Linked DNA regions of Homo sapiens. The protein of the gene in region 3 interacts with the protein of the main gene of each other region in a pairwise test. Each region holds a gene or a part of one and is shown on either strand. Other genes may lie near its edges. The genes, in order: GNPDA2, GTF2H2, ERRFI1 and PLEKHA3.

Region 1 (7,088 bases), on a different chromosome or scaffold from region 3:
TGATGGCCTCCAGTTACTGCAAAGGACATGATTTCATTTTCAATGGCTGAATTTCGCGGTGTATATATATACCACATTTTCTTTATCCAATCATTCACTGATGGACACTCAGGTTGATTTCTTATCTTTGCTACTGTTGTTATTGGAAGGAAGGTCATGAGTGTGAGGTGTCCAGTTCCTTGGCATTTTGAACAAAGAACTGCACAAAAGGAACGAAACACAGGAATGAAGCAGCGAAAGCAGGGATACTGAAGCAAGAAAGCACCCCATGGGGTGGGAGTGGGCCCAAGCAAGCGGCTCAAGGGTCCGGTTACAAAGTTTTCTGGGTTTTAATACTCCTTTTGAGGTCCCTTATCGGTTACCCCTTATCTGCATGAAGGATTTGGTCCGTGGCTAATTAAAGGCTGAGGTGAATTGGCTCCCTATGCAGATGAAGGGATGGCCCATGCTTAGTCCACGGACAATCCAAGGCACTTTCCCCTTCCATCTGAGAGGTGGTGGAAGGCAGTCGATCGTAGGGAGAGTAGCCTTTGGTCCTTTGCTACTTGGGCATGGGGAGATGGGTTTTTTCCTTTTGGTCTAGCTTTAGGAAGTTTGCGTTAATTGGTTAACTGGCTTTAGGTTACCTGCCCCCAGACGCAGGTGTTTTCTCTTTTAGGAAGTCAGCACAAATTGGCCTTAGATTTCCTGCCCCCAGACCTTGGTGTTTTCCTTTGATTTAGCTTTAGGAAGTCAGCACGAATTGGCCTTAAGTCCTCTGCCTCCAGACCCTATTCTACTGCCTCACTGTGAATAGTGCTGAGATAAAAATGAATGCGGGTATCTTTTTGATATAATGAATTATTTTCCTTCGGGTAGATACCCAGTAGTGAGATTGCCTGATCAAATGGTAGTTCTATTTTCAGTTCTTTGAGAAATCTTCATACTTTTTTCTACAGAAGTTGAACTGACATTACCATCAATAGTTTATAAACGTCCCCTTATAACATTTACTGAACATTCTGTAATAATTCCCATAATTCTTAGATTTTTAATTCTTATTTTTATATTAAATGGATCAGTCACCAATACCAAGCTTTTTATAACATGGTTTCAGCATTCCTGAGTTTTGTACCCACACACTTTACATAGAGTAATAAGTCAAATTTTCTAAATTAATGAGATTAAAAGGTCTTATTAAAATAAATGTATGGAATCTAAATGTCTTTAAGAAGGTAACAGTTTCGAATTCTGACACAACAACAAAAAATCATGGTCACCATGATCTAGAATTCTGGCCCGATAACAATTATTTATTTACAGAAAATAAATTACATAGTAAGTCATAAATTCAGTCCAACAACTGGACTCAGCCTCCACTTAAATATAATCCATAATCTAATGTCAAAAACAATTTTAGAGTTAAACCAAAGAATCAGAAAGAATTATTGGCTGTAATGAACATCAAAAGATATATTTACTTCTAACAAGAATATATGGCCAGCTGATTGTTAATAAAACGGAAAAAAAATAAGGTAAGGAGGACGAGAAGCATTAGAGCTTTCCAATGTCTTCTGCATCCTGGGCATGTTATTTTTCTCAGTTCAACACACGTTTGAAGACCTATTATATTCTAAGCACTATGCTAGGTTCTGTAGACACAAAAATGATTAACTCTATTGTCAAAGGGCTTAGAATCACTTGTCTCTGAGGTTGAAAGCATTATTCTCACTCTTCATATACAGAAAACTGCAACTACGAGAAGTTTATTGCTGACGTTAAAAAGTGGCCCGGGGAGCTGGCTTTAAAACTAAGTGTTTCTGACTCAAAGAGACATTAGCCAAAGATGTCTTACCGGTTGAGAATCACTTACGATGCTAGTTAAAAATACAGATTCTCAGGTCCCTCTCCCTAGACACAGTGTTTCAAAAGATCTGAAATGAAGTCCAAGGAATCTCTGCTTTTGCAAATTATCACAGGGGATATTCATAATCAGGTGAAATTTGTTAAGAACACCACACATCTCACTGAAACGAAGTTTAAGCAAGTCTCTCAGACCAAGGTACAGGCAACTTTTTGTTTTCTTAAACTCTCTGGAGGGCGCAGAGTCACCTCCAAAAGTCCCAAATGAATCCCTTCACCCAGAGCAAAGAAGAATTTCTTCACCACATTTAAGTTTTTAAGATTTGACTTTTCCAGTTTTTGCCAATCCTCAGAGATCCAAACTATTGTCGCCTTATGCAATTCTCTGGCATCACAAGACAGCATCAAAAAACAACAGAGCACCACCCTTTCCCTCGTCTTCCTTCAGGTGCTGATTCATTTTGGATGTGCATCGCTAGGAAAAAGGGCTGCTGAATATAAATCGCAAAACTTCAATGGTGGATGACAACTTCTACACCCGTGAAGTTACACAGCTAGTTAATGGCGGGGCCAAGACCAGAATCTACACTTGCAGAACCTCTGCTCTGAGCTTTTCCCTACTCAACCTGACCTGTCCTGAAAGCGTAAGGGTGGCCTGGCCGCGCGTGTGGGACCGACCCGAGGAGGGACGAGAGACAGCAAAGAAGGCTGTGGTTCCTGCCCGGGAGGCGGGGGCTGCAGATTCCCCTCAGCTGCGCGTTTGCCTGGCCCTCACTTGGCAAAGGACAGCGAATGCAAATGAGGATGACTGTTAGGAATTTTTAACGAGTGTAGAGAGAGGTGTCAAGAAGAAGCCGCGAGAGAGGAGAGGGCAGGGACGCCTTCTCCCGTAGGCACAAATCCGGAGAGGACAACCAGGTCCGCGAGTGGCAATACGGGAGACCCCACGCGCCCCCAGCCTCGAGGTTCCTGAGCACCCATTCCGCCCCGGCCCGGCGTCCCAGTCTCAGCACAAAGGCCGCACAGGGCGAAGTTGCCGTCGGGTCCCCCGACCCGAGTCCCCTTCTTGGCGCCCCCGCCGCACCCCCCGCTAAACTTACCGGCAGACCCAATGGTTCTTCGATGCTGGAACAGCGGGAACAAGCAACACCCAACCACCCGAGAGCGACCCCAGCTGACCAGTGGAGCGCGAATCCCACGGACCCGGATGCAGATAAAGGCGCAGGAAGGAACCGCGGCGTGGCTGGCGGGCGCTGCGCATGCGCACCGCCTTTAGGACGCCTGAGGTGAGACGCGAGGAGTTCGGTCCGAGTGCGGTGCGGCTGGGCGCTCTTCTTGCCTGGAAGATCGCAGTTTCTGGGTCATCACTTTACGCTACTTTCCCCTCCCCCCCATCTTTCAAAGAGGGATTTGCAGTAGATTCTTTAGGCTTATGAGATTTAGTATGTAAGACCGTAGTGCTCACACGTACTTTGTTGCTTATGTTGCTGTTTGGCAACATGAATATATTTGCCATTTATGAATACATTTCTCTCTCTACTCCAAGCTATTGAATGCATATTTGCAAACGCAATGACAGATAAGCGTCTTGTGTCAAAAAACTCATCAAAGTTTGCAAAAGGGCAAACAGTACCATGGGAAATCGGGAGCGTCTCAGTAAGAGAAAACACTATATAATAGGGTACTGGCTTTTGCTGAATGAGTCTAAGAAAGGGATAGGGGAAGCTGGAATCAGCTTTGAGCTGGGTATCACAGATGTTTATACAGGAGTGGGAAGGAATTGGGCTGTGGAAATTATTGTAAAGAAAGCAGCTATCATTCAAAAGGAGAAAAGTGTGTTGTGTCTTCACCATGTTCCATCAGGAACACTGTTCCATTAATAACACCGTTTAGGGTTCTGTTAGGAACAATACAATCTTGACTCCTAGCCAACTTAAGGTTCTGTTTCTGTGGAAACTACAAGTTAAAAAAATGTAAAACGCTGTGTCCTCAAACTCGTTATATGAAGTTTTTCACCTGGGTTGTAAATCCAGCCTGCTTCTTTGAATGTAATGACTCCTCTTGCATCCTTTAGTGAAGAGTAGGATGTTACATTCTCGTTGATTTAGCTTCAAACAGCAACATTGCTCACATACTGATAATAGACAGGTTTATTAGTACTATCGCCTTCAGTAAGTTTGCAAAAGCGATTTTTGGCCAGATTCGGTGACTCACGCCTGTAATCCCAGCACTTTCAGAGGTCATGGTGCATGGATGGCTTGAACCCAGGAGTTGGAGACCAGCCTGGGCAACATAGCAAGACCCTGTCTCTCCAAAAAAGATTGAGGTAAAATGATGAAGTAGTTTGTAGGCTATGCATAGAATTTAGGCTTTGTATTGTAGGCAATAGGGAGTCACTTAAGCTTTATGAATTGAAGATAAGAGACTAGAACATACGTGTTTTAGAAAGAATGCTGTAGAAAGGTGGAGACTGAATTACAGTCTTGAATTACAGATATGTGCCACATAAGGAAGTTTAGGTAAAGAATGGACTGGATATTTGGCAATGGTCCCATAAGATTATAACAGAACTGAAAAATTCCTATCACCTAGCGACATTGTAGTAAACGTAAAGTTGTAGAGCAACACCACTCGTGTTTGTGGCTACATAGGTGTAAACCTACTGTGCTTCCAGTCTCATAAAAGTCTAGCACATACAATTATGTACAGGATATAATACTTGATAATAAATGACTATGTTACTGGTATATGTATTTGCTATATTATACTCTTTATCATTATTTTAGAGTGTATTCATTCTATTTCTATTTTTATTTTTATTTATTTGTTTATTTTTTTGAGACAGAGTCTCGCACTGTCACCCAGGCTGGAGTGCAATGGCACAATCTTGGCTCACTGCAACCTCTGCCTCCTGAGTTCAAGCAATTCTCCTGCCTCAGCCTCCTGAGTAGCTGGGATTACAGGCAGCTGCCACCACGCCCGTCTAATTTTGTTTTATTTTTAGTAGAGACGGGGTTTCACTTATTAGCCACGCTGGTCTCGAACTCCTGACCTCGTGATCTGCCTGCCTCGGCCTCCCAAAGTGCTGGGATTATAGGCGTGAGCCACCATGCTTGGCCCTATTTATATTTTTAAAAGTTAACTATAAAACAGCCTCAAGGAGGTCTTTCAGGAGGTATTCCAGAAGAAGGCATTGTTATTATAGATGAGAGCTCCATGTGCATTATTGCCCTGATGAACTTCCAGTGGGATAAGATGTGAAAGTGAAAGACAGGGAGATTGATAATCCTGACCTTGTGTAGGCCTAGGCTAACATGTGTGTTTGTGTCTTCATTTTAACAAAAAAATTTGAATAGGAAAAAAATTAAAAATAGATTTTAAAATAAAAAAACTTATAGAATAAGGATATAAAGAAACAAAATATTTTTGGACAGCTCTCCAATGTGTGTTTTAACCTTAACGTTGTTACTAGAGTCAAAAAGTTTTTTTTTTTTCTGAGACAGAGTCTCACTCTGTTGTCCAGGCTGGAATGCAGTGTCGCAATCTTGGCTGACTGCAAACTCTACCTCCCAGATTCAAGCAATTCTCCTGCCTCGGCCTCCCGAGTAGCTGGGACTACAGGCGCATGCCACCACACCCGGCTAATTTTTTGTGTTTTTAGTAGAGACGGGGTTTCACTGTGTTAGCCAGGATGGTCTCGATCTCCGGACCCCATGGTCCCCCCTCCTCAGCCTCCTATAGTGCTGGGATTACAGGCGTGAGCCACCACTCCCGGCCAAAAAGTTTTTTAAAAATTTAAATATAAAGTAAGAAAGCTACAGGAAATTAAATTTACTATTGAAGAAAAAAAACATCGTTTTATAAATTTAGTGTAGCCTAACTCTACATTGTTTATAAAATCTACAGTAGTGTACAGTAATGTCCTAGGTCTTCACATTCACTCACCACTCATTCACTGACTTACCCAGAGCACCCTCCAGTCCTGCAAGCTCCTTTCATGGTAAATGTCCTATACAGGTGTACTGTTAATATTTTTTAATTTTTATACTTTTTTTTTTACTATACCTTTTCTTTGTTTAGATATGCAAATATATACCATTGTGTTACATTGCTTACCGTATTCAGTAATATGCTGTACAGGTTTGTAGTCTAGGAGCAATAGGCTATACCATATATGTGTAGTTTGTGTATATATGCTAGGTTTGTGTGCATATACTGTATAACATTCACACTATAATGAAATCGTCTGAAGATGCATTTCTCAGAATGTATCCCCATAATTAAGTGATGCATGACTGTATGTTATGAAGACTCCAACACGGAACGACTCTGAGTGTACCTTGTATTTTTCCTACCCAGCCTTGGTATCAGGCATTTCACTAATAGCTGATAGTTGTTTTATTAATCAACAATGGATGTTGAATTTTGTCAAACACTTTCTATGTATCTATTGAAATGGTTGTATGGTTTTCCACTCTAATATGTTGGTGAATTCAATGTTGAGTGCACTTTTATTGCTGGAGAAAATTAGATTTGGTCATTGTTTTTCTTGGTCAGGGTCTTTCTTATACATTTATTGTTGGGTTCAATGTTCTAAAATTTTGTTTAAAAATTTTACACCTATGTGTATGAGGGATATCAGTCCATAGTTTTTTTGTTTATTAGTTTTTTTTTGTGTGTGAAGTCTTTGTCTAGTTTTAGTATCATAGTAATAACAAACTTATAAATTGAGTGGGAAAATTTCCCTCTTCAATGTTTTGGAATAATTTGTGTTGAATTATAGTAACATAATGTATTCTTTAAATACTTGATAGAATTCACTAGAGAAGCCGTACGTACATAGAGTTTTCTTTTTTGAAAAAATTTAACTATAAATCCAATTTCCTGAATAAATACAGGATTATTCAGGTTATCTATTACATAATTTTCATCGAGATGTAATTCACATACTATAAACTCAGGCTTTTAAAGTATACAGTTCAGTGACTTTCAGTATACTCACAATGATATGTAACCATCACCACTATCTAATTCTGTTTTTCTATTTCTATCCCCCACCCCACATCAAAAGAGACCTCATCACCTGTTAGCAGTCACTTCCAATTCTCCCTCCCCTACCTGATTTCCTGGCAACCACTAGTATACTTCCTCTCTCTGTGGATTTGCCTATTCTAGATATTTCATATAAATGGAATCCATATGTGGCCTTTTTTTGTCTTGTTTCTTTCACTTTGCACCATATTTTC
Region 2 (7,033 bases), on a different chromosome or scaffold from region 3:
CTTGCCCAAAGACATATGCCTGCTTAACTGCAGGACCAGCAGCACCCAAACCTAGATCTCCTGGCTCTCTATCCACTTCTCTTCCTACCCTACAAAATTATTTTTAATCTCCCACTGTGTTATGGGTATAGGAAAAAAGCATACTACAATAGTGTCAGTGTGGTTTACAGCAGTGGTCTGATTGGAGGGAAAAAAAGGTGGCTTCAAGAGGCCTGTCAGAATCTCCAGAATATTTTTCATCTTTATACATGACTTCACTAACATCCATAGAAAACTGCTGGGGCCGGGCATGGTGGCTGATGCCTGTAATCCCAACACTTTGGGAGGCTGAGGTGGGTAGATCACCTGAGGTCAGGAGTTCGAGATCAGCCTGGCCAGCATGGTGAAATCCTGTCTCTACTAAAAATAAAATTAGCCAGGTGTGGCAGCGCACACCTGTAATCCCAGCTACTCGGGAGGGGGAGGCAGGAGAATCACTTGAACCCGGGAGGCGGAGGTTGCAGTGAGCCAAGACAGCACCGCCTGGGCGACAGAGTGAGAGACTCCTTCTCAAAAAAAAAAAAAAAAAAGAAGTAATAGAAAACTGCTGGTAACTCGGGGTGGGTAAAGTGAGAGGAAAATATTGACCTTATATTCCTACCTTGGAGGAACCATCCTTCTTCCACTATATAATAATCCTGCTTAGTTCATGTGGTGCTGACCCTACTTCTATCCTGCTCTGGGCATCAGCAGGCAATCGAAGCGTACAAACAAAATACTTCATTTCCTGGCCACTTTGTTCATGGATGGGCAGATCGTAACTCAGGCCAATCAGAGTTCTCCCTAGACGTGTGCTGAAGCTATAGGCTACGGGTACAATGTAGACTGGGACAATTAAGAGACATCTTTTCAACTTCCAGAAAATCTATCAGAGAATGAAGCCAGACAAAGCCAGGACCCCAACATATGCAGCAACTATATATGGAATTGGCCCACCTTTGAACATAGCCCAAAATTTTCCTTCTGCACTTAAGCTAGTGTGACATTCTTTTGGTTACTCACAACTGAGTTTCTTGAATCACTCCAGGCCAATGTACATTTCACTCCTCACTGCATTTAATGAAAAACTACTAATGAAGAAAGTATGTCATTTCCCTTATGTGTGCCGGCAAGGATAAAAGGTTGAAAACCAGATTTAAGGGAGAGTGTATTTCACAGAAAATAAAATAGAATCAGTGATGCAAATTTGTAACAGCATATATACCAAAGCAAATAAAAAATGCCATTACTACGTTTTGAAACTAAAATTCAGTTAGGTATGTCATGGAAGCAGAAAAATTGATTCATTAGCAATAGCTACAGTTTAATTTTTATACTTTTTCCCTTTTAAATTAGATGCTTAACTTTATAAGAATTTAATTTTAAGATTAACTGGATTTTATAAATGATTACAATAACTGTATTTTAATATTTTCAGGATAAGGCCGGATGCGGTGGCTCAAGCCTGTAATCCCAGCACTTTGAGAGGCTGAGGCGGGCTGATCACAAGGTCAAGAGATTGAGACCATACTGGCCAACATGGTGAAACCCCGTATCTACTAAAATACAAAAAATTAGCAGGGCGTGGTGGCGGGCATCTGTAGTTCCAGCTACTCAGGAGGCTGAGGCAGGGAATCGCTTGAACCCGTGAGGCGGACTTTGCAGTGATCCGAAATTGTGCCACTGCACTCTAGCCTGGCGACAGAGCAAGACTCCATCTCCAAAAAAAAAAAAAAAAAAAAGGAAAGAAAAAAAATTTCAGGATAAGCACATATAGATTTTAAATAAAAACATTTATATTCAATGTAGTATTATTTACCACTACGCAGAACTCAATTTAGAATAGTTAACCTTGTATCCTAAGAATATAATGGTGGGGGAGATGTTATTAAATTGTTTCACCTAGAGAAGACAGAGGAACCACCCTTCACGTTACTTATTAAGCAGCCATATAAACAGGGCTACGAGGTTGGGTAAATAAAGCAAAGTCCTTGAGTCATGTAAAGGTAATTTTATGCATACCTGAAAGTTCAGTCAATTTTTCAGCTCTTTTACTCTTAGTTACAATTATTCCAATCTTGAAATAAAAACAAAAATTATTATTAATATAACAAGTTATTTCCTCCCATTAAGAATATATATAACTATTCCTGTAGATGATATTGGAGCAGAAAAAAAAATAATTTATATAGCTAAAATAAACTAGTAATTACAAAAGAAAGAAGCAACAGGTGAGAAACTTTTTCTCATGCTGTTTTTGGCAAATAAATTTAGCTATGAGTTCACATTACGTTTAACTTTTAGAGTTATTACGCTTTTCATTTTTAAGTATACCAGAAACTGGTTAAACAATTTGGGTAATTCACAAAATACATGTCCAATTTTTAAAAATAAATTACATTTGGAAGCAAAATAGGAATCTAATTCTGAATTCTATCACTTAGATACGTACCTGACTAATAGGATTTTGATCAAAATATTCCTCTACAAAGTATTCCAACAACTGTTTAAACAAAAAAAGACATACTAGATAAAGGCAAAATAACAATCATAAAGAACACGTCCAACTGATGTTTGTGAAACCTGTTAATCAAGCATCACTTCTCATGACTTTTAAACTTACAGATTTTCAAAAACTGTTAAGTAATAAAAATATTAAACAGTAAAAACGTTAATTTGAAATGGTGGGTGATGAGATAGGTTTGAGCTAGGTTTTAAAAGATGGAACCATTTGGATGTGTCAGAAGAAATTTCAATGAGGAAAAGATCCAATGAAGAGAGATGGGAGAACGAGCAGAATTGAGAATAGGTTTTGATAAATTAGGAATACGAACATATTTGTAATCTGAGGAGACAGAGTTAAGTAAGGCAAAGGAGAATGAAGATTCAAGAAAGAAAAGGGATAACTGATAAACCAAGATCCTGATGTGGGGTGGGAGGATAGAAATTAAAAACACAAATAATTAGCTATGTTGGTTTAAAATTTCCCTAAATAACCTGGCAGTACTTCTACTTAGCTATCATTAGCATTAACTAAAAATACAAGGCAAAAAATAAAAAATATTGCATTCTTTAAAAATATCCTTTAGAATCCAGTGTTCTTCCCCACTTTTTTAGTAAAAGTTTAAGTGATTTTGGTACAAATTTAAATGATTTAGTATAAACTTAAATTTTACCTTTAAAGTACACGTCAGTCTATTAGGCTTTAAATCTTGGTCTTCCATTGTTCTTGATCCATCTACTACCACATAAAGGTGGCGCATCTATCGGAAAAAAGAAAGGGCCAATTTCAAGTACTTGTTTTGTTTTGTAGAAACTGGGTCTCGTTCTGTTGCCCAGGTTGGTCTCAAACTCCTGGGCTCAAGCAATCCTCCTGCCTTGGCCTCCCAAAGTGCTGGGATTATAGGCATGAGCCACTGTGCCCAGCCTCAAGTGCCATTTTGACTAGTAAAAATGGCATTTAATAATTACATATTCTATGCACGTATTTTTAACATATTCTTTTAAAAACTTTGTTGTTTTGCTATTGTTTTTTCTAGCAAGACAGAATGTTTCTCTAACCTAAACTAGTTCTGTACTAGTAAAAGAAAAAATAATGACATACCATTCCAAGTCGAACTTGTCCATGGTGCTCAAATACTCTGTTAAAATTATACAAACATTTTAATGTAATTCCATATACTATCCCCCCCCACAAAAAAAATACAACTTTCCAATTGACCTCCTTTGTTTTTCTTTTTTTCTAATTCTGAGTAAGAATGTCATAACGTGCATTTTTAGTGGAGTAAATAATTAACTTATGGAATACAATACACACAATTATAGGTATTGTAGACAGTCTCTAAAGACCATTTCCTGCTGGGGCAAGGGTAGGTGGCTAGTTCTTTCCCCATAGTCAGAAGGCAATAGGTCAGTTACCCTGAAACACAGCTAAAATGAAGTACTGAGGAGTATTTATAGATAGAAAGGCTTAAAATGAATATATTTTACCTTTTTAAGATACATAGGAAGGTTACATACCTTTTTCTCTTTGCCTTGAATAGAATGTCTTCTATTGTAGCTTTAAGTGATCCAGATTCATCTTCTTTAAGAATCTCCCTATAAGTCATAATTATTTGTTTGAAAAGACAAGCTAAAATGATTACTAGCCCAAATGAAATGAAAATATATGTCCACACAAAGATTTGCATGTAAGTGTTCATGGCTGCATTTTCCTAACAGTCAAAAACTGTAAAGAACCTAAATATCCACAGACTAGTGAATGGATAAACAATAATGTGGCATAACCATAGATGGGAATACTATTCAGCAATAAAAAAGGAATGAAGTATTAATACACACTGCATCATGGATGAGTCTTAAAAATAAGTGAAAGCCAGCCACAACAGACCAACTATTATAGTCATGCATCGCTTACTGACAGGGATACATTCTGAGAAATGCATTGTTAGGCAATTTCATTATTGTGTGAATATCACAGGGTATACTTACACAAACCTAGATGGTATAGCCTATCCCACGCCTAGGTTACAAACCTGTACAGCACGTTACTATACTGAATATCTTAAGACAACTGTAACACAATGGTCAGTATTTGTATATCTAAACATACATAGAAAAGGTAGAGTAAAAATACAGTATTATAATATTATGGGACCATTGTCATATATGCAGTCTGTCTTTGACCAAAACATCATTATGTGGCACATGATTGTATATGATCACATTTTTGTGAAATGTCCAGAAAAGGTTAAAATTTGGAGACAAAAAGTAGACTAATGATTGCCCACAGGTGGAATTAAATTAAGATTTAAATTAATTGTAAATGAATGTGAAGGATCTTACTGGAGTGGTTACAATATTCTAAAACTGGTTTATGATAATGGCTGCACAGCTCAGTAAATTATTAATAAAACATCACTGAATTGTACATTGGAAATGGGTGAATTTTAACATATGTAAAATATACTTTAATAAAGTTGTAAAGAAAAAAAAAGACATTGTCTAAAAGAAAAGACAGGGCAATAAAGCTCTCCTTACCATGTTCTTTCATAGCCTCCTTCCCATCGCTTAGTTCTTTCAGGTTCTTCATCCATTTTTTTCAAAACTGTATTTTATTATTCAATAATCTGTAAAAACCATTAGAATGTAAGTTATCTAAAGATGTTTGTTACAAAATTCATCCAATTAAATTTGAAAATTAGACACATATATGAAGTAAAAAAAAATGGAATGCCAGGTCATCTTATTCTTTGTATTTTACTCAATAATTGTCTTAAAAATCTTCATAGAACTCCATTTCTCATTTCCAAGAAATAATATGAACTTATACACAAACTTGGTACCAATAAAAATAAGCGTCTTTTTACGATTTGTAAAAGAACAAAAATGCTTTATAGATGTGTCACATGACAAACTGTAGACTTGTGAGGAGTCAGTATGGGCGTAGTTGAACTATTATAGCTGAGTGACATGTGATTCATTGTACTATCTCTCTGTGTATGTCTCAGTTTTCTCATAATCAAAAGTTTTTAAATCACATTTATTATTTATAAATGGGTAAATGCTATAGCTCATAATTCAAAAAAAAAGGACACAAAATTAAACATAGTTCTTTGAGACATCTCCAAACTGCTTTCCATAGTGGCTGAACTAATTTACATTCCTACCAACAGTGGATAAGCATTCCCTTTTCTTCACAACCTTGCCAACATCTGTTATTTTTTGACTTTTTAATAATATCCATTCTAACTGGTGGTGAGATGGGTTTGTGGTTTTGATTTACATTGTGGTTTTGGTTTGCATTTCTCTAATGATCAGTGATGTTGAACATTTTTTCATATATTTATTGGACACATGTATGTCGATCCAACAATCCCAATACTGGGTATAAACCCAAAGGAAAATAAAACCATTCTACCAAAAGTACAAGAGCACTCATATTAATCACAGCACTATCCAAAATAGCAAAGACATCAAATCAACTTAGATGCTCATAAATGGTGGACTGGATAAAGAAAATGTGGTACGTAATATATCATGGAATACTAGCAGCCAAAAAAACAACGAAAAAAAAACACAATGAAATCCTGTCTTTTGCAGCAACATGGATACAGCTGGAGGCCATTATCCTCATTGAATTAACACGAACAGAGGCCCAACGCAATGGCTCACGCCTGTAATCCTAGCACTTGGGAGGCCAAGGCAAGTGGATCACCTGAGGTCAGGAGTTTGAAACCAGCCTGGCCAACATGGTGAAACCCTGTCTCTACTAAAAATAGAAAAAAATTAGCCAGATGTGGTGGCGAGCACCTGTAATCCCATCTACTCAGGAGGCTGAGGCAGGAGAATTGCTTGAACCCGGAAGGCAGAGAGGTTGCAGTGAGCCGAGATCGTGCCACTGCACTCTGGCCTAAAAAAAAACAGCAACAGAAAACCAAAGACGGCATGTTCTCATTTACGAGTGGAAACTAAACACTGAGTACACGTGGACATAACGATGAGAACAACAGACATTGGAGACTATTAGACAGGGAAGGATGGGAGAGAGTGAGGGTTGAAAAACTGCCTATCAGGTACTATGTTTACTACCAGGGTGACGGGATCATTTGTATACCAAACCTCAACAACAAGCAATTTATCCATGTAACCAACATGCACACGTACTCCGTGAAAATAAAAGTTGAAAACAAAACAAAACAAACAAACACAGGCCAGGGCCAGGTGCAGCGGCTCCATCCCTGTAATCCCTGCACTTTTGAGAGGACAAGGTGCGGATCACCTGAGGTCAGGAGTTCGAGACCAGTCAGGCCAACATGGCAACACCCGTCTCTACTAAAAATACATAAATTAGTTGGGCATGGTGGCAGGTGCCTGTAATCCCAGCTACTAGGGAGGCTGAGGCAGGAGAATTCCTTGAACCTGGAGGGCAGAAGCTGCAATGAGCCAAGGTCACGCCACTTCACTCCAGCCTGGGTGACAGAGCAAGACTCCGTCTCAAAAAAAAAAAAAAAAA
Region 3 (7,033 bases):
TGTTCAAGGAACAAACAGTAATATATGAAGATACTAATTTCCATTATCCTGTAAAAATCAAGTTCTGCAAGATTACTGGCTTCAGTAAAAGCCTGGGACAGCTTCCTCCCTCCCTTTTAAAGACAAGTTAAAGGTACATTCTTTACATCCTCCTTTGTGAAACACCCAGTAACTCATATCTTGCTTAGCTGCAAGGCATGGATAACAAAATAAGTACATTTTTCTTAAATTAGTAGTTCCTCAACTTCAGGACCGCCAATCCCCTTTGTCAGATGTTACAGGTCTGGAGTCCCTATAGCCCCCTTTTCACTTTCCTTTTTTATTATTCGTTATGTGTTAGTCAGCATCAATCTCTGCTGTCTTCAGATAGCCAAGTTTATTTATAAGTTTAGGTTTTTTTCCTTAGGCACCAGGATATTATTTGTCAACTATTGTGTAACACTGACCCCTTTTGGGGGCACGTACATATACACTCTTTAACACGATCTCATTCTCTCACTAAATATTAGTAAGGGATCAGTGCAAATAATATCTGCACAGCTGAGTGCTGGGCACTGTGCAAAGGCTGGGCACTGTGCAAATGTGACACATTTGCTGTGGGGGAGAGGTACACAGGTTTTTTTTTTTGTTTTTTTTTTTGCTCAGCAACTTCAAATCTATTATTTACAAATCTGTCACCTCCTACTAGACTAAGCTCAGGACAGAGGCTGTGTCTCAATCACCTTTTAACAATCAGTACCTGGAACATTAGTAGGTGCTCAGTAAGTGAATGTTTGCTGAATGAATGATTGTATAATACCATCTAATTATCATAATCAGTATCAACTCAATATACACATTGTGTAAGGCACAGGGTTTTTTTTTTTAAAGCTAAAAACTTTTAAAAAATACTCTGCAAGTGTTTATTATTATTTTCCCATTAGAAAGGAACACAGTGATAAGTAATGTTCTACAGGTTCAAGATTTCAGTAACAAAGTAGAGAAGGGAGATCCAATGACTGGTTCTCTGCATTTTACCCTTCCACAGTCAGCTGTTCTACCAGGCAGAGATTTTATGATAGGGTTAAAATATTATTTCAGATAGTCAAGCATTATTTTTCTTTAAATCAATCTCTCAAATATATGATAAAGAAAACATTGTCATTTAAGAATTCTAATTGAGAGGTCTTTTGAGGATTGGTTTTTCAGATTACTTCAATGAAGCAAATGTGTTATCTACCATCAAGCTATAAAAAATTTAGAAACCAATTTAAAAATACTGCTAGCCTCTCCCTCTGTGTACTTAGCCCAGTGGTTTATCAAGCTTTTTCTAAGCATTCTACAAGCACTGGCAAGACTATGAGGAAAGTATCTGTGGTAATATAAAAATGAAAGGCAAGATAGGAAGAATATGGTATTTAAGTAGTTTGAAAGCACACGTTTGAAGATCGCTCATCCAGATTACAGGAAAATGCTGCAGGGGATTCTGCAGGCCCAACCCCCACCTGTCTGCAAGCCAACAAGTACTACTAGTAATTACTGTGTGTCAGCCTCCTAATGCCATCTAAATCTTAGCTTTCAACAGAATGATTGTGTAACTATCGCCTCTGCAGAAATTGCCTTGGAATTCTAAACTTACATTTCAATGGTCACTTAAAATTATTTATATGTTCTAGAAAAAGTTATTTTTTATTCATTGTTTCCATCACCTACTTGTTAGCTTTCTTAAGAAAAAAATTTTTTTAGTATAAAAAGAATTGTGTTCACTAAGCCAGCTCACTTCTGACCACAATAGTGTCTTTGTGTATTCATAGAAGGTGACCTGCCTCTAAATTTCAATGGGGAATTGTGAATGGGCCATGTTATGAAACTGTCCGAACTTCCTACTTGCTAGCATGGGAGACGAGGGGGGCAATATAACTGCCATGTTCTCTTCTTTTGGAAAATAACTTCAAACTGTAGACTCAAAAAGGGCAATGTGCTATAGGTTTGGAAGGAAGCTTTTAAAAAAAATGTTTCTCAGATTGTAAACTGAGGGTATGAAACCACCTGAAACTTTCTCTCTCTCTAAAAACCTTCTAGTATTCAGCACAAATGGAAGCGGGGGGCGGGGGGGGGGGGGGCGCGGAGTAAATAAATCCATTTTACCAACCTCAAGCTAAAAAGAAACAAACTCTTCCCAAGTGATGTTTAATGCCAATTTTTCACATTTTATCTGTCTTACAACTCATTAGAGGAAAACAATTGCAAAAATGTACCTATGTGGGGAAATCAGTATCTAAAAAGTACAAGATGGGATTATGTTATGGAATCCAAGAATAGGAAAGCGAATGTGAATCCAGACAGCATGGTTTAGACGGGGACCCAAATAACCTTCAGCATAACTTCTCCAAACTTCATCAACTATTTTTAGCTTTTTTAGTGGGTCTAAAATGCAGTTAAATACCAAATTTCAGATGTGAACCACCTTTTCCTGTTAACTTGATTCTTTTCTAAATTCAACGAAAAAAGAAGCCCTAAAATCATTTGCTTCTTGAGGTTATCCTTTTATTAATCCACTTGTATAGCTTCAACTCATAGACAGCTCCTGAATCAATGACTCCAGCCTGGCTCAAGCTTCAACTTTGCATTTCCTATTGTCTGGTGATTATCTTTCCACTTGGATGGCCCTCTGGCATCTCAAACTCTACAAACCAAACTCCTCCTTTCACTTCATACTCCATTCCCCACTCCCCAAACCAGTTCAGGGTCTAAGAGGATCACACTTCTCAAGGCACCATTTTTAACCTGAGGCCATGTACATTCAATTGCCAAGTTCCACAGACTACTTTTACATGGTTTCTCAAATCTTACCCTTCCATTGACAGGCATCATTCTTCCTGGGGTCTGGCAATATGCAACCTATTCTACAACACTAGTACCAAGTCAATATTCCTTAACAACAGCTCAAGCTAAGATTTGCTGCTGCTCAAAAAACCTTCAAAGGCTCCTAAATAAAACCTCCTCAGCCTGGCAATTTAGGGCCTCCACAATATAAACCTAATCTATATTTTCAAGCGCGCTTCTATTTTCCCCAAATCTCTGTTACAATTCGATTCATCCTTTAAGGTCAGCTCTACCCTGCCTTCTCCATGAAGCCGCTCCCTTTCATGAAACACTGGAGCAGCGGTGCTCTGTTCTTGTGTTATTTTGTGCTGGGCCCCAATTCCCCTTCCACTCTTCAAATCATCTAGGACAGAACTGATGTCTGATTTATGCTTTCCCCCTGTAGATCTTGGCATCATTCATGTCTATTATTTATTAAATGGATACTGAGAAAATATCCATCTCATTTTTAAAAAGTAATGACATGAAAGATTCACATACACTGTGAGTCAGTGAAGAGCTCAGGGGAGAAGCAGATTTATAAAGGATAAAGTTAATGCGTGCTGGAGTGAGGCGACTGCCCAATAATAATGTAACAACCTTAGGATATGTAACAGGAAGGAATTTTTATGAAATTCATTTCCAGAATTCAAAGAAGACAGTTTGTAGACTGAGTAAAAATTATAAGCTTCAGTGGTTAACAGTGTAGCTTTCTAAACTGGTTTCTGTTACAGTATATTTACTTGAAGCAATTGGGGGGGTACTTTCTTAAAACAGTGTTTTGCCTTCTCTTAAAACACTATTCCTTCTAGACTGTGTTTTTGCTGCTGAATTTAAGGTGACTTTCATTTTTCTAAAAAAGTTACACCAAAAGCACACTGCACCTTCTTCATTAAGGTGAAATCATATGCCTTTAGCTTGAGGACAGTCTCTTTGAAACTGCTTAAAAAAAAAAAAAAAAGAAAAATGCAGGCTACCTTAAGGCAGTAACCTAGATATGCTTACCTGGCCACCAGATCTCATTAATAAATCTCAGAAGCCATCCATGGGAGGAGGAGGGGCACATTTTTGTCATACAACTCATCCAGTTCTGCCCAGTGCTTCCTTATTTAAGAGTGTGATGTAATTTCCTCCTTTCAATCTGGTTCTAGAACCTGATTTCTGTTTATTCAGGGTGATAAATGGTCTTTTCAGTTCCATTTAAGAATCACCTACATTAAGTACTTCCATAACCAAGGAAGATAATAAGGTAACTACATTTAAAGGCAAAATTTATAAAAGGAAACTGATTTAGGAATATGACAAACTCCATGATTTTAGATCCTCCCCAAATATACCAATCTCTGCATGTTTATTTTTTAAAATGTCTAAAATAATCACCTGTGAGGAAATTAAAACAAACAAACAAACAAAAAAACACCAATTTTTTTTTTTTTTTTTTGAGACGGAGTCTTACTCTTGTCACCCAGGCTGGAGTGCAATGGTGCACAGCACAATCTCCACCTCCCAGGTTCAAGCGATTGTCCTGCCTCAGCCTCCCGAGTAGCTGGGATTACAGGCATGCACCAACTCGCCAGGCTAATTTTTGTATTTTTAGTAGAGATGGGGTTTCTCCACATTGGTCAGGCTGGTCTCAAACTCCTGACCTCAGGTGATCCTCCTGCCTCGGCCTCCCAAAGTGCTGAGATTACAGGCGTGAGATACCACGCCCGGCCCAGATTTCATTTTAATAGCCTATGATTTAGGTAGGGGTAGGAAAAGAAAGAGGGAGGCAAGTTAAGAAAACTTCCTTAGTTGTACTCTCTACCATGGTAAGCATAAGTAGCCTTTAAATTAAAAACATAGATTACTTTTAAAATAATGCCATGTTTTAATGTAATTAAAATACTCCTGCATGAATTCAAGAAAAGCTTGATGGCTTCAGTAAACATTAAAATATAGTTCAGTGTGGCAAAGATGAACATTTGTGTCTGTGTTTGCAGCTCCATTCCTCAGAGGCTCTTAAACATGTCCAGAACATAATGGACCATTTGTAGGTGGTGAAATAGAGGCAACAGAGAAAATAATTTATCTTCAAACTGTCAAATAAAAAATAAATGACGTAATTTATTCAATAATTCAGAATGCTTTCTAGCTAAGTATTTTAAAAAATGGTAAACTAACAAAAAACCCATTCCCTCAACTACCATAATCCAGTCTTTCAACTCACTTAAGCCTCCCACACAATTTTAGTGTGACAGCAGAAAAGTAGGATAGCAGGAATACATTCTTTTGTCCTTTGTATTTCTCCTACAGAGTAGCACAATCAGTAACTATATATACACACAGAGGGGAGAAAAATATTATTTCTTTTTGACATATAACAATAGATTATTTCTTACTATAAAAGTGAATTCTAATCTAAAGACAACGAGCACAATGGTCTAATGATGGGACGCAAGTCTTTAAAACTTCAAATTTATTTAACAAGCATTTAAGTTACCCGATGGGTAACTCTAGATTGTTACAATTAATATAAAACCATTAATGATAACTAACATTCACTGGACATACAACTGCCAGGCAAGCATGGTTCTAAGTGCTTTATGTGTATGAACTCATTTAATCCTCTCTACAATGCCATAAGGTGGGCTACTATTATTACTCTCACTTACTTGAGGCACAGAGTTAAAGAACTTGCTCAAGGTCAAAACTGGTGAGCAATGGGGCCAGGACTTCAACTAGACAGCCCGGCCTCAGTGTCCAGGCCCTTCACCAACACACCACACTGCCTCTTCCTGTCCCTACGGCTTTTTAAACTGGCGAAGTAGGATCCGACTGACTATACTGCTCAACTTGTAAGGGTAGCACAGATCCTTTTTTATGGATTTACTGGTAATAGTTTTTCTTGGGTAACCTGTAGCCTATGAAAGTTCCTGTTTCACTTCAACTCCCTCAAATTCTCCTATTAAAAGTTATTAATTGTAGATCTGGCCTATGTATCCTCTAAAATGGGTGGGTTAAGGCATCAATTTGACATTCTATTACCACTTCAAACAACTATTTTGAAGCCCTCAGTCTTTAACGATCCACGGATGCCCCACCACAACAGAACTCTTTACAACATGGTTATTTCATATAACACAAGTCTGTTTTTACTCGTAATAAGCGGTTACTACATATACCCAACGGGCCTCCTTTTAACATGCTTTCACAGCATGGATCCCAATGATGGCATTATAATCACACTGTATTGTAAAATCCGGAATTTAACAATAGCATACCTTATATTTGTAAAGCACTCAACAAGTTACAAAGCACCTTCTTACACATTATCTCACTTGATCCCCACAACATCCCTGTAAGAAGAGGCAGGGATTAGAATCTCCATTTTGCAGATGAGGAAACAAAGTGAGGTTAAATATCTTGCTATAAGCAAAAGGGCGATCATGGCTCTTCTGTACTATAATCCAGCATTTTCCCCACACTTTCACTACCTCTCCACTCTATAGTATCTTCATTTTAGGCAACAACCTCATTTCTCCTTGTAACATTCTTGTTTATAAATGGAGAAACTGAAGCAAAAGGCTGTTAAGTTAAATGCTCAAGACCTAAGTGCTAGTCAATAGCAGAGGCAGGAACAGAAACTCAACTCATAGTGCTCATTCAGCTCAAAAATTCTTAGAGGGCAAGGATTAATTCTTTTCACAAATATTTATCAAGTGCTTATTCTGGATTAGACACCATGTGAGGTGAAAAATAGAGATGGCTGCTGCCTGAAGAAGCCTTCCATCTAATGAGGGAGGAAGAGAATAGCCAAGCAAGCAAACAATTTTAGATGGCGATACCTTCCAAGGAAACAAGCAGGGTACAGCAGCAATAGGATAAGGAGGCAGAGGAGCATATATTTACACAGGTGGTTTGGGAAGGCCTCTCTGAGTAGGTGACTTTTAAATGGAAATCTAAAGGCTGAAAAAGAGGCAGCCCTGATAAGAGTCAGAAGACAATTCTACTGAGCGAATAGTTGTTTAAAAAACAATCTGTAACTAGTCCAGTTTCACATCTGGGGTATTGAATAAGAGCTTTTGGATAATGTCTTCCAATCCTTACCTTCCTATTGTTTCCAAGTTGAAAAGGGCTCCATTTCTGTAGCCAAAGCCCCACATTTTTTTGTTTGTTTATTTTTTAAAGACAGAGTCTCACTCTGTCA
Region 4 (5,540 bases), on a different chromosome or scaffold from region 3:
CTGCACCCTCAACCTCACGGGCTCAAGCAATCCCCACATCTCAGCCTCCCGAGTAGCTGGAACTACAGGCAAGCAACACCACGTCCACGTCCAGCTCTTTTTTTTTTTTTTTTTTTTTTTTGGAGACATGAGGTTTCACTATGTTGCCCAGGCTGGTTTTGAACTCCTGAGCTCAAGCAATCCGCCCAACTCTGCCTCCCAAAGTGCTGGGATTACAGATGTGAATCACTGTGCCTGGCTGCACCCTGGGGGTTTGTAATGTGCAGCCAAGATGGAGAACTCCTGATCTAAACAAATAAGGTGATGCACTGTATGCTTTCGTTTAAAGGTTAGCTATCATCACTACTATCTTTTCTCACATCACAGCACTAATCTTAAAATAGCCAACCAGCTTTTAAATTTAAATGTGCAGCAAACCAGTCACGTTTTTAAAAAGCAAAGTGTTACGCTTCCTCAAACTTTCAAAACATGCTGTATTTAAGTTTTTCTCAGTGGCATGGCAAATTTATTAAACATTTTCCCCCACACTGTTCACATCACTCAGGTTTTATTGAATTTATAAAATTACTACAATATTTTCGACAAGCAGAATTTTTATGACAAAAATATAGAGTATACACCTTTTGGAATTTGGAAAAGAAAAAAATACTCACAAAATAAGTATACATATATTTTTAAATGAAGTTTATTTTCCCCTGGGAATAGAAATTCTATTCTGAAACTTTTTCAAAATTAAAGTGTTTAGTTATAGCAATCAAAATCTGTATTTGCTATTAGGTTTCTAAGTTAATTTAGAGACTAGCTTTTTAAACCAATTCCATTATTTCCAATTTCTTAACTTCTAAACTTACAAATTTTTCACTTAAATACCCATAACTACTTTTGCAAGAATCATTTTATGTATATATATGTATGTATATATATATATGTATGTGTATATACACATATATAAGCTATATATACATCTTATAACTAGCTACAATAAAGACATTTAAAAGGCCAAAAAAATTCATGTGCTTATGTTTCTAACAATATTTAAACACGCAAAGAAAAGACTATTTTAACAGCAATTATGCTACTTTCTAATGCTTGCTTATTTATGTTTAGGTTAAAACAATAGTTAGGGTGCAAATGTGAATGATAAATACTATTCAACTAGTTAACTGAAAAAAAGTGAAAATTTTGGAAAGCCAATTATAATTAAGATAGTCATTGTATCTAAGATATTAAATAATAAAGCAGTGAGTTTTAAATTCACTCAAGAATTAGAAAGCAAAAAAATTACAAAAAAATAATTAGAAAGCAAAGATAAATACTAGCAACATAACACTTAGTGAGTGGTCAATGAATATTAACTGAAGAAATTTTTTAAAAGAGGTAAATAAATGTATAAACAATCCTAAATTAAATGGTTAACAGACCCCCTGAACTCACCGCCATTCCCAAGTGATTATTTTCTTTTCTGAAATAATATACCTAATATAGAAATAGTAAGAAGGCCATTTTGGGGAACTCTATAATCATCTATCAAAACTGGAGAAAAAGATAAAGTGAATAAAATTTTAAAAAGGTAGACAGAATGAGAAAAGTTCATATGTCTTTTTTTGGCTAATTATAGACAACATTGGAAAGCTCTTAGAAATTTACTAACATTCAACCATGATTTCCATAAGAGCTCTTCAGGACAGGTAGAAAGGAAATGTTGAGAAACTACACAGAATTCTGAAAACCAGAGGGCAAGAAAACTCACACAGTGAGTCTTTCGTTTTCTCTAGAGTAAGACACTAATGGACTTGAACTATTAAAAACATCATCTAAGACTATATCCACTGCCGTCACACTCCCCCAAAAGAAAAAAAAAAAAATACCTGCAGGAGTCAAATCCCCAAAAGTGGCAAATGCCAACATACAGTAGAGGAAGCCATATGCTACAAAAAAAAAAAAAAAAAAAGAGAGAGAATGTTATAAGACCAAAAATTGGTAAGTCATCGGTATATAGCTTCCTCACTCAAGTCACCTTCAAGGACCCTGCGTGAACATGGCCTGATTCACAAAAGCAGGAAAGAAAAGTTGCAATCTGTGCCTTTTCCCCTCAAAGGTCATGGCCTAGATTAACCAAATATGGCAAGGAGAATGGAGGGCAACTCATCCCTGTAAGGAGGTTTGCCACTAAAGCAAAACCACAAATGAATTCAAACTCTTCTCTCCAGTGATGACTAAGGGTGATCAAAACACAAAAAGTGACTAAGGTAAAGCACTGATATGCTATTGAATTTCACTTACCTAAACTAGTACTTCTTAGAGAAAAAAAAAAAAAGAATATTGGCACTTTTTTTTTCCTGAGCACCATGTGACAAGGGTCTTTGAATTCATGAAGGCACTATTAATAAGTGAAGGATATACACATTACTTATACATACATATGCACTTAGCCTAAATAAAGACATGACAGGCTATGTTTGTTCCCATTTTAAAGTATATGTATGAACTTAAGAGTTCATCCTAGTTGGATAGTGAAAACAGAAAACAGGGAATCAATTTTAAGTTGTTCAACTTTGCTTATTGTGAGTAAAGATATATATAATCTAGCAAAGTTATGCAAAGTTAGAATATACCCATTGCCCTATATTCTCGATGATAGTTACCCCTGCCACCATTCCCCACACCCTCTTAGTAAGCCCATGCAGACATCATTAATCAAGTAGGTAGGTCATTCTCCGCTAATCCTAGCTGAAAAATCAAAGTCTTAAAATTAGCCACAACATCAGAGATGACACAGGAGTTAAAAAAAAAAAAAAAGGCAGTTTGCTATCCATGGTCATGATGGTAAACCACAGTAAGTGTGCGTACTTATTGCTACACACTTTTCTCTAGCCAACAACTGCAAAACAAGAAAAAAAAATCAATAATAAGCTAAATGAGAGCTGTGTTCTAAAGCCTCCCCAAGATGAGGCACCATTGCAAGAGGCTATGGACAATCACCCGAGGATGCCAATTCTGAAGGCATGCTGAATCACTTGGATAACCCAGCAACCCCTAGCGACCACAAATACCACTGGAATAGGGCATAAACAGAAATGTTCTAATACTGAAAAGATATTCATTTTATGCTCATTTACCATATAAATTTGTCAAATGAAGACTTTTAATTACATGGACATGTATATATTATCTGACAAAAATCTGGGTGGTTAACCCTTACTATCTGTAGGCCATACTTTTGATTGTTGTCAAACAAAAAAAAAAACCCACAACTCTCTATTTTGACCAAGTAGTGGTAACTTCTACAGCAAATTTGTCTCATCTTCTATAGATAAACTTTTAAAATCAATTGGAAAACTAAAATGATTCCAAGTTGCATTGTCCACAACTAAGAAACTGTGCATACAGATGCATGCACAGATAGAGACACAGGCACACACACTGTCACACTCACGCATACACAATTAAAGAAAACCACTGGAAACTCTAGGACTGTCTTTTGAAAGAAAATGGCCTCGTTCTAGCTATCCAGAAAAAAGCAATCCACAGTTCCTTGCATAGAGGAATTAAAAAGAAAATGCCTGTCCAGCCAACAATAATAGGGGTCAGAATTGTTCAACTGTCACACACAAAAAAATACTCAAGTAAAGGTCATAAAGCCAGCTCCTTCTTTAGTACCAGATGCATCATAAAAATGTGCCACTGGGGCCAGGATCCTGACACTGGGAGGCCAAGGCAGGCAGATCACAAGGTCAGGCATTCGAGACCAGCCTGACCAACACGGTAAAACCCCGTCTCTACCAAAAATACAAAAATTAGCCAGGCATGGTGGTGCTCGCCTGTAATTCCAGCTACTTGGGAGGCTGAGGCAGGAGAATCGCTTGAACCTGGAAAGCAAAGGTTGCAGTGAGCCGAGATCGCGCCATTGCACTCCAGCCTGGGCGACAGGGTGAGACTCTGTCTCAAAAAAAAAAAAGTGCCACTGTTTATTTAACCACCCTGCTATGGATGAGCTAATCCAAACTATTGCAATGTACATCTATTTAAAAGTCAATACACAGGAAAAAGGTCTGGAAGAATATATACTAGAAAAGAATGGTTACCTCTAGGGGATGGAGTGTCAAGGTGAATTTTGGTTTATTCATACTGTCTAAATGATTGCTTAATAACTCAGGTATTGCTTTCAAAAAGTAAGAGGAAGGGTGGGAAATACCCTGTTCTCTCAGAATTTTAAGTCCAGAGTGCTGGGAGAAAAAGATGGCAGCACTGAGCGGGACTGAAAAGTTTTCCTAGAACATCTCCTTTCATTACATGACTCACCATTGTTCACTCATAAAATGCTTCACCGCATCCAAAAGGAGTTCTGCCTACTAATACCAGAAAAGGTTGAGAAAGAAGAGTGTGGTTATAGCTCCTGATGGCTGATTCTATTCTCTCTCCTTTGTTCCTAATTGTCCCCATGCTGCCAGATCTGGCAATATACTTTATATTGAGATTTAAGTGAGTAAAAGTCTTTGTGCCAAACTTGCAAAAGCACAGAGATTATCAACAGCACCCTCCTCCCACCTTGCCAGAGTAAAAGTGAAGAAGGAATTCATTATAGTCATACATTTTACTCATCTTTAATATTCTGAATATATTACCCATGGAAACAACCCTTCATTTATGTCAAAAAAAATTGCTTAATGCATTAATATCCCTTTACATTAATTTATTTGGTTTATCTACAGTAACTAAGCAAAACTGAATCCACCCTGTCATATATTCTAGGTTTTGTGGATACATTCTGAATTATTTATTTATTCAACAACTAATGCTAGTCCAAAAAAATCAAGAAGCATGTGAATTTAAATACTAAATAAAGGGATAACTTAAAGGCTTAATGTTTCAGGATACAATAAGATATTCATCATTCTAATCAGTCTCATGAGTTAATCCTGGTGCTGTGCATCTTGGCTGCACTGGTAGTCCTGTACTTCCGCATCTCTGTTATAAGGCTAACATGAGGTAAAGCACCTGGCCCACAGTAAATGCTCTAAATGTTTTATTACCAAAGAGACCAACAAAAAACTTTTTGGGGAAGAGGAACATATTATGGGACAGAAAGGGCAAATTCTATCCTATGAAAATATACTAGATTAGTTACTGTATTTGGAGAAGAGGCAGCATAAGGACGCCAAAGATGGAGAGGTCAGGTCAGGCACGGTGGCTCCCGCCTGTAATCCCAGCACTTTCAGAGGCTGAGGCAGGCGGATCTCCTGAGCTTAGGAGTTTGAGACCACCCTGGCCAACATGTATTTGGAGAAGAGGCAGCATAAGGACGCCAAAGATGGAGAGGTCAGGTCGGGCACGGTGGCTCCCGCCTGTAATCCCAGCACTTTCAAAGGCTGAGGCAGGCGGATCTCCTGAGCTTAGGAGTTTGAGACCACCCTGGCCAACATGGTGAAAAATTTTTGTAAAAATACAAAACATCAGCTGGGCATGGTGGTGCGTGCCTACAGTCCCAGCTATTTGGGATGTTGAGTCACGAGAATTGCTTGAGCCCCGGAGGTGGAGGT

What was found.
Region 1: the proteins of ERRFI1 (region 3) and GNPDA2 interact in a two-hybrid assay, tested with the Homo sapiens proteins (one study listed by BioGRID).
Region 2: the proteins of ERRFI1 (region 3) and GTF2H2 interact in a two-hybrid assay, tested with the Homo sapiens proteins (one study listed by BioGRID).
Region 4: the proteins of ERRFI1 (region 3) and PLEKHA3 interact in a two-hybrid assay, tested with the Homo sapiens proteins (one study listed by BioGRID).

What each region holds. Positions count from the first base shown.
Region 1 is NC_000004.12:44,723,532-44,730,619, forward strand, and holds the start of GNPDA2 (glucosamine-6-phosphate deaminase 2), read right to left. Parts: upstream 3,026-7,088; 5' UTR 2,943-3,025; intron 1-2,942. UniProt on the Homo sapiens protein: Catalyzes the reversible conversion of alpha-D-glucosamine 6-phosphate (GlcN-6P) into beta-D-fructose 6-phosphate (Fru-6P) and ammonium ion, a regulatory reaction step in de novo uridine diphosphate-N-acetyl-alpha-D-glucosamine (UDP-GlcNAc) biosynthesis via hexosamine pathway.
Region 2 is NC_000005.10:71,057,650-71,064,682, forward strand, and holds part of GTF2H2 (general transcription factor IIH subunit 2), read right to left. Parts: intron 5,148-7,033; 5' UTR 5,115-5,147; coding exon 5,059-5,114; intron 4,118-5,058; exon of another isoform or gene 4,117-4,117; coding exon 4,039-4,116; intron 3,660-4,038; coding exon 3,623-3,659; intron 3,282-3,622; coding exon 3,195-3,281; intron 2,522-3,194; coding exon 2,471-2,521; intron 2,096-2,470; coding exon 2,041-2,095; intron 1-2,040. UniProt on the Homo sapiens protein: Component of the general transcription and DNA repair factor IIH (TFIIH) core complex, which is involved in general and transcription-coupled nucleotide excision repair (NER) of damaged DNA and, when complexed to CAK, in RNA transcription by RNA polymerase II.
Region 3 is NC_000001.11:8,016,286-8,023,318, forward strand, and holds part of ERRFI1 (ERBB receptor feedback inhibitor 1), read right to left. Parts: intron 3,789-7,033; exon of another isoform or gene 1-3,788.
Region 4 is NC_000002.12:178,511,454-178,516,993, reverse strand, and holds the end of PLEKHA3 (pleckstrin homology domain-containing family A member 3), read right to left. Parts: 3' UTR 531-5,540; downstream 1-530. UniProt on the Homo sapiens protein: Plays a role in regulation of vesicular cargo transport from the trans-Golgi network (TGN) to the plasma membrane.